2 linked regions of the Homo sapiens genome follow. The gene in region 1 interacts genetically with each later gene. Each region holds a gene or a part of one and is shown in the gene's direction. Other genes may lie near its edges.

The links. A genetic interaction does not mean that the proteins touch.
Region 2: changes in CIT (region 1) and MFAP1 together harm fitness more than expected from each alone (negative genetic interaction), as found in Homo sapiens cells (one large-scale study listed by BioGRID).

What each region holds. Positions count from the first base shown.
Region 1 is NC_000012.12:119,716,535-119,720,634, reverse strand, and holds part of CIT (citron Rho-interacting kinase), read left to right. Parts: intron 1-49; coding exon 50-157; intron 158-1,773; coding exon 1,774-1,936; intron 1,937-2,225; coding exon 2,226-2,390; intron 2,391-4,100. UniProt on the Homo sapiens protein: Plays a role in cytokinesis. Required for KIF14 localization to the central spindle and midbody. Putative RHO/RAC effector that binds to the GTP-bound forms of RHO and RAC1. It probably binds p21 with a tighter specificity in vivo.
Region 2 is NC_000015.10:43,814,391-43,818,190, reverse strand, and holds part of MFAP1 (microfibrillar-associated protein 1), read left to right. Parts: intron 1-742; coding exon 743-962; intron 963-3,116; coding exon 3,117-3,246; intron 3,247-3,502; coding exon 3,503-3,690; intron 3,691-3,800. UniProt on the Homo sapiens protein: Involved in pre-mRNA splicing as a component of the spliceosome.

The sequences.
Region 1 (4,100 bases):
AGTATACTTCTGTCTGGATTTGAGGTTAGTTTGTTTTCTTGAATTTTAGGTTCTCTATTCTCATGAAAAGGTGAAAATGGAAGGCACTATTTCTCAACAAACCAAACTCATTGATTTTCTGCAAGCCAAAATGGACCAACCTGCTAAAAAGAAAAAGGTGAGTCAAAGTGTTTGAAAAGTGGGAATTGTCAGTTTCACTCATCATTCATGGCTCAGTGGACACCACTGTGATATATGATCATAGGAACATAGAAGAAAACAAAGTATACTTTTTTTGTTGTTTTATTTTGGGTTGAAAAATAGATTTTGAGATAATTATAATAGGTCTTACTGAAAGATATCAGTGATCAAGTCTAACAAACTACTTTTTGTTTATGACCATTCAAATCATAGTATCTTTGTTAAAGAAGTAATCCCTCCCCAGCCCACACACATAGCAGTTGGGGCAGAGGGATGTATGCAGAGAGAAAGATTTATACCAAGTCATGCATACATGACTCTAGAGGGAGTTAGCAAGTCACAAGTATGGGGCTTCAGCAGTTCAGGTCTCTCGTACCACACTCCAGAAAGGACTTTAACAGTGATCTAGTCCAGTCCTTTTGATCGGCTCACAAAGAGACTAGAACTCAGGGAGCTGGGGTGACCTGCCTGAAGTGTCTGACTGGACACTTCTCCCCTCTGCCAAGTACTGAACAACCCTTTTAGATTGCAGGAGACAAATTACAAACTAGGGGCAGGGTTATACATAGTGCACATGAGAAGATTGTTTTTCATAAGCCTGATCTATACATGCTTTCCCAAACCACTAAAGCCTTCATACTAGGTTTGGCCAGGTGTTCTCAGTTCCAGAAAAGTCTTGAAGAAGCTTGCAGTTTCCTTCCAAATGCAGAAGCATACCATAGCAGCAGTGGCAGTGGTTTTGCAGGAGAGGCCTTGATGACTTGGAATACCTAGGAGGAAGGAGTGGAGGGCTGAAGTTGACAGTTGTCTCAATATTTCCGGTGCCATCTTCGCTGTAAGGGCATGAGCACAACATTCAGAGGCCGCCTCCCACTAGACGTTGGCTGCACGGGAAGGATTTTCTTGCATGCTGCGTGACTGTATATGGTTGTTATGCTTATGATATTTAATCTTTTTTATTTTAGCAGTGAACTGTTACCTGGTTATGTCACTTGATTTAGTTAGGGTGTTTCCATTTGTTATTTTTTTTAGTTACCTTTTTTTTAAGTTGCATTATTCTGTTTTCCTTTTTTTTCCATGTATAGTAAATATTTTCATTTGCATTTTTTTTTGAGTAAGCCCCTTGTTTTGACCTCATTTTAGCATTCCTTTTAAAATTTTGCTTCCTTTTACAAAACACTCATCTCTGTGTCTTGTAACTGAGCATCATGAGACATATTCCAAGGCAAGAGTGACCTCTGAACCATCTCTCCTGACTCCATACTCCATACTCTCCTGATTCCATTTTTTGAATGGGAAAGACTCAGGACATGACTCTCCTGTCTTGGCAATGCTAGAGGAAGAGGTGGTGGCCATTCAAGCATCTTTAATCCTCTTGGTGAAAACTTCCGCACCCCTATTTTTTTCAGCCGGCTGGAACGGGCTGTGGCTCAGCCTACCCTTCCCCCCCTTCACATGCCATTTTTACTAAATACACTTACAGTGAGTATGCTCCTGGCTTTTGTGGTTTGCTCCTCCCGAGTCAGATTTCCTTTAGCTAGTTTCAAGTGCCAGTTTCCAGGAGTTAGGAGATATCTCTGTTTCCATTGCTAGGGTTTATTTAGTCGACGGAAAGAGGACCCTGCTTTACCCACACAGGTTCCTCTGCAGTACAATGAGCTGAAGCTGGCCCTGGAGAAGGAGAAAGCTCGCTGTGCAGAGCTAGAGGAAGCCCTTCAGAAGACCCGCATCGAGCTCCGGTCCGCCCGGGAGGAAGGTAGGGGCTCACTCTCTCCAAAATGCTCAAGGATGTGGAAAAGGCAGAGGATTGATCTCAGTGAGATCAGCCAAGACTAACTAGCTCAGTGTCTTCGTTTATGGCCCATACGCTTTCAGACCAGACATCCCATGTCTGAAAAACGTATGGCCCCTGTGCATTGCCAAGTTGATGTGACGCATATTCTTTTGGTCTTGGGTCCTTGAAAGATAGCCCAGGGACATTCGGCTTAGTTTGGTCCTCTAGGCGACCCAGCTAACCAAAAGGCATTGTCCTGGTCTCTCTGCAGCTGCCCACCGCAAAGCAACGGACCACCCACACCCATCCACGCCAGCCACCGCGAGGCAGCAGATCGCCATGTCCGCCATCGTGCGGTCGCCAGAGCACCAGCCCAGTGCCATGAGCCTGCTGGCCCCGCCATCCAGCCGCAGAAAGGAGTCTTCAACTCCAGAGGGTACGTTGGAGTTGTATGGAAATTTCTTTTAGTCGACTAAGACATGTGGGCATATGGTAAAAATTACAAGTAATACTAGGGGTTAAAGATTAAAAAGTCAGTCTTGGCCAGGCACGGTGGCTCACACCTGTAACCCCAGCACTTTGGGAGGCCGAGGTGGGCGGATCACCTGAAGTTGGGAGCTCAAGACCAGCCTGACCAACATGGAGAAACCCCGTCTCTACTAAAAATGCAAAATTAGCTGGGCATGGTAGTGTATGCCTGTAATCCTAGCTACTCGGGAGGCTGAGGCAGGAGAATTGCTTGAATCCGGGAGGCGGAGGTTGCGGTAGCCGAGATTGCGCCATTGCACTCCAGCCTGGGCAACAAGAGGGAAACTCCATCTCAAAAAAAAAAAAAAAAAAAAGAAAGAAGTCAGTCTCCTGGCTCCCCATCCTCAGTGTTGGTTCATATATGTGACCACATGTCTATACCATTCATGTATCTTACATTGTGTGATTATATTTAAAGAATATGAGAAAATAGGCTGGGCATGGTGGCTCACGCCAGTAATCCCAGCACTTTGGGATGCTGAGGCAGGCGGATCACCTGAGGTCAGGAGTTTGAGACCAGCCTGGCCAACATGGTGAAACCTCGTTTCTACTAAAAATACAAAAATTAGCTGGGTGTGGTAGCATTCTCCTGAAGTCCCAGCTACTTGGGAGGCTAAGGCAGTAGAATCATTTGAACCCAGGAGGTGGAGGTTGCAGTGAGCCGAGATCACCCCACTGCACTCCAGCCTGGGTGATAAAGTGAGATTCCATCTCAAAAAAAAAAAAAAAAAAAGAAAAGAAAAGAAAAAAGAATATGAAAAAATAAGCACATCTCTCTCTCAGGCCTTTTTTCTTTTATAAATATTATAGTGGTGGCTCACGCCTGTAATCCCAGCACTTTGGGAGGCTGAGGTGGGCGGATCACCTGAGGTTGGGAGTTCGAGACTAGCCTGACCAACATGGAGAAACCCTGTCTCTACTAAAAATACAAAATTAGCCGGGTGTGGTGGTGCATGCCTGTAATCCCAGTTACCTGGGAGGCTGAGGCAGGAGAACTGTTTGAACCTGGGAGGCAGAGGTTGCAGTGAGCCAAGATAAAGCCATTGCATTCCAGTCTGGGCAACAAGACTGAAACTCTGTCTCAAAAACAAAAACAAGAAAACGTAAGCTTATCTTTCAGGCCTTTTTTCTCTTATAAATATCATAGCACACTACAGTATACACTGCAAGACACCTTCGTTTCATTAAAGTGCTATCTTAGAGGTTTCACATTAGTACATAAGGACCTACCCCATTCTTTCAGAGAACCACACAGTATTCCGTGGTGTGAGCATGCAATTCACCTGTTAAGCCAGGCTCCTGTTGATGGCCATTTAGGTTGTTTCCAATCCCCTGTTACTGTAAACACCTTGCAGAGGACATCCTGTGCCTCTGTGGGTGTTGTGCCTGGAGAAATTCCTGGGAAATGAATCACTGGGTTAAAGGTCATGTACATTTTGAGTGCTGGTAGTTTGTGCCAATGTTTATTTCTACCAACAGTGTGAGGAGTTTTCTTGCTGGTCTCAAATGTACTCCATTTACCTAGAGATTAAAAGGACTTAAGAAAAGGCCAAGGAAGCTGTTTGGAATGTCTTAGGAACACTAGGGTAGAGCTGTGGTTTAGCAATCATGGCATTGC
Region 2 (3,800 bases), on another chromosome or scaffold:
AAAATTAGCTGGGCATGGTGGCATGCGTCTGTAGTCCCAGCTACTCAGGAAGCTGAGGCAGAAGAATCACTTGAACCCGGGAGGCGGAGGTTGCAGTGAGCCGAGACCACGCCACTGCACTCCAGCCTGGGCGACAGAGCGAGACTCCGTCTCAAAAAAAAAAAAAAAAAAAGAATTGTATTTGTAAGAGATTACATACTCTTGCATGTTTGATAACACATAAGGTAAAGGAAAAGAAGGTAGAAATAGGTAAGATTAGAATATTGAGTCATGTGGCAGTATGTTATAAAGGCTGCCATGGAAATTCCAGAGGGAACTACAAGAATGCCTGAGCAGTTTTATGTTCCTGCAGAAATTACCCTTACTATGTGCTGGGCACTGTTACAAATAATTTGTTTAAGGGTATAGTTGAGGTGGGATACCATGAATTTGTGATGGATGCAGTCTGCCTTTTTGGGGGGGGACTTTTTTCTACTGTTTCACTGCCTACCTTCCTCTACTTCATTGTACTCAAGGTAAGCCTCATTATCATCAGTGTTGGCTTTCACAAGGATGCAGTCTCATGACTTGGCCTTTGTAGGAAAACACCATTAGAAGAGTAGATGGTTGGGTAGTGGCTCTCTTCTTCTTCTGCTTAGACTCTTGTCTACTATGAATAAAGGGCTCTATTTGCAAAGGCCGTGATGGGTTGAAGCACATTGAGAAAGAGGCTACTGAAACATAAGTTACCTTTCTCGCCCAGGTGAGATTTCAATGGAAAAAGTGAAGGTAAAGCGTTATGTGTCCGGAAAAAGGCCAGACTATGCCCCTATGGAGTCCTCAGATGAGGAGGATGAAGAATTTCAGTTCATTAAGAAAGCCAAAGAACAAGAAGCAGAGCCTGAGGAACAGGAGGAGGATTCATCCAGTGACCCCCGGCTACGGCGTTTACAGAACCGTATTAGTGAAGATGTGGAAGAGAGGTAATGTCTGTGATTGTGTTTACTTGAACATGAACCTCTACAGCTTAATAATAATAATAATAGCTAATACTTGAATAGTACTACCAAGTAGATTACATTTGCTAATTCTTGTAATCCATACAATAACTTTATGAAATAGGTGCTATTATCCCCATTTCACAAAAGGAGGAAACTAAGAGCACAAAGGGGCTAAGAAAGTTACATGACCAAAGCTACAAAGTGGCAGCTTCAGGAAACAGCAGGTTACTTCTGGCCTAAAGGACCTACTCAACTCCTTATGGGAATAGAAAACACAGACCATTTGTTGGCTGTTGAGAGGAGTCTTTTTAGCACAAAGATGTTTTATAAACTTTGGTAAATTGATTTTATACATCTACTTATTCTAAATGCTAATAAGGGGAAATGACACTGAAGTAGGAGAAAAGACCTTATAAAGGTCTCATGGTAGAAAGAGAGCCTCCCAGTGAGGGATTTTGTATGTTATATATTGATGGAGACATTACTTTATAGAGTAGGCCAGGAGTCCTGAACTTTCACCGTTCATAATTGTCCCAGGAGTTTTTTCACAGAGCTCCTGGGCCAAAACAGTTCTGTTTATTTTAGTTATTAAGTAGTTAGAGCCAAGTAACTTAATAAGTATTTATGTCCTAATAACTTTGCCACTTGAAGATTAACAGTGCCCATGGCCAGGTGCGGTGGCTCACGCCTGTAATCCTAGCACTTTGGGAGGCTGAGGCGGGTGGATCACGAGGTCAGGAGTTCAAGACCAGCCTGGCCAACTTGGTAAAACCCCATCTCTACTAAAAATACAAAAAAATTAGCCAGGCCTGGTGGCGGGCACCTGTAATCCCAGCTACTTGGGAGGCTGAGGCAGAGAATTGCTTGAACCTGGCAGGCAGAGATTGCAGTGAGCCGAGATCACGCCACTGCACTCCAGCCTGGGTGACAAAGCGAGACTCCATCTCAAAAAAAAAAAAAGAAAAGAAAAAAGAAAAAAAAATAAAATTACAGTGCCCAGGGGGGAAAAAACACTTTTATTCATTCTCACATAACCATAGTTACTAGTGGAATTTGTTTGCCTGTTGGACACTGACAGCCTTTCAAACCTTGGAATCAGCACTGTCACTTTTTCATGTCTTGTTTTATATTGATTTTCATACTATACTTTCTTTTACTTTTTATCACAGCAGCCACCAAAACCCAGTTTCACAAAGACACGATATTCTCGAAAGGAATGTAGTGTGACTTAATGTTGAAAGTGAATTATCTTGAGCTATTAAAAATATTCCAATGCAGGCCAGGCTCAGTGACTCATGCCTGTAATCCCAGCACTTTGGGAGGCCTAGGCAGGCGGATCACCTGAGGTCAGGAGTTCAAGACTAGCCTGGCCAATATGGCGAAACTCCATCTCTACTAAAAATAAAAAAATTAGCTGGGTGTGGTGGTGCATGCCTGTAATCCCAGCTACTCGGGAGGCTGAGGCAGGGATTATCACTTGAACCTGGGAGGTGGAGGTTGTGGTGAGCCAAGATCATGCCCTTGCACTTCAGCCTGGGTGACAGAGTGAGATTCTGTCTCAAAAAAAAAAAAATCCCAATGCATCCCTATGAGTTTGCTGGCTTGCTGTGGTGCCCCAGGATGCCTCAACATACATTTAGTATTTCAGGCCCAACTTGACTATTCGCTCTGACATCCTAGTTTAGTTTCTTTAATCTGCACCTCAGTTTCCTCCACCTCAATACTTTAATACTGGATGGACATGGTGGCTCACACCTATAATCCCAGCACTTTGAGAGGCTGAGGTGGGCAGATTGCCTAAGTCCAGGAGTTCAAGACCAGCCTGGGCAACATGGTAAAACCCCGTCTCTACAAAAAATACAAATATTAGCCAGGTGTGGTGGCACGCCTATAGTCCCAGCTACTCAGGAGGCTGAGGTGGGAGGATCACTTGAGTCTGGGAGGCAGAGGTGGCAGTGAGCCAAGATCGCACCACTGCACTGCAGCCTGGGCGACAGAGCAAGACCCTGCCTCAAAAAAAAAAAAACTTCAGTATTAATGAAGGCAAACATAATGTGCTCTGTGGCTATGGAAATGCAGTTGATGCTACTTCATTTTTATGACATTGGTGTTACATTTGGAGATACTGTTTTTCAGATTGGCTCGACATCGAAAAATAGTGGAACCTGAAGTGGTAGGAGAGAGTGACTCAGAAGTAGAAGGAGATGCTTGGCGCATGGAACGAGAAGACAGCAGTGAAGAAGAGGAGGAGGAAATTGATGATGAGGTATGATAAAGGAACATGGGAAGTTTTTTTCTGGATATAAGAAAAAGTTCATGCCAGTGCTCATTTGTTGAAGCCTTAAAAACATGAGATCACTGCTTTGGCAGGACTCTGATCATGTTCCTTGTTTGTGGGGATAGGATTAAAAATAGAATGATACTAAGTTGTATCTTTTTACATTTGAATTTGTTGTGTTTGATGAGACGAACAAAAAGCCATAGGCCATTTGACTGACTGGCTTATATATATGACTTGATAGGAAATAGAGCGGCGGCGTGGCATGATGCGTCAGCGAGCACAGGAGAGAAAAAATGAAGAGATGGAAGTCATGGAAGTGGAAGATGAGGGTCGTTCTGGAGAGGAGTCAGAATCAGAGTCTGAGTATGAAGAGTACACAGACAGTGAAGATGAGATGGAGCCTCGCCTTAAGCCAGTCTTCATTCGAAAGTAAGTATCTCACAAGCCAGATCTGAATCCACTTAATTACCACTTTCCAGGCCTGGAGACAAAAGTCTGTTTTCTGTCTTGCTATTCTGAAATCTAAACGCTGAGTGAAA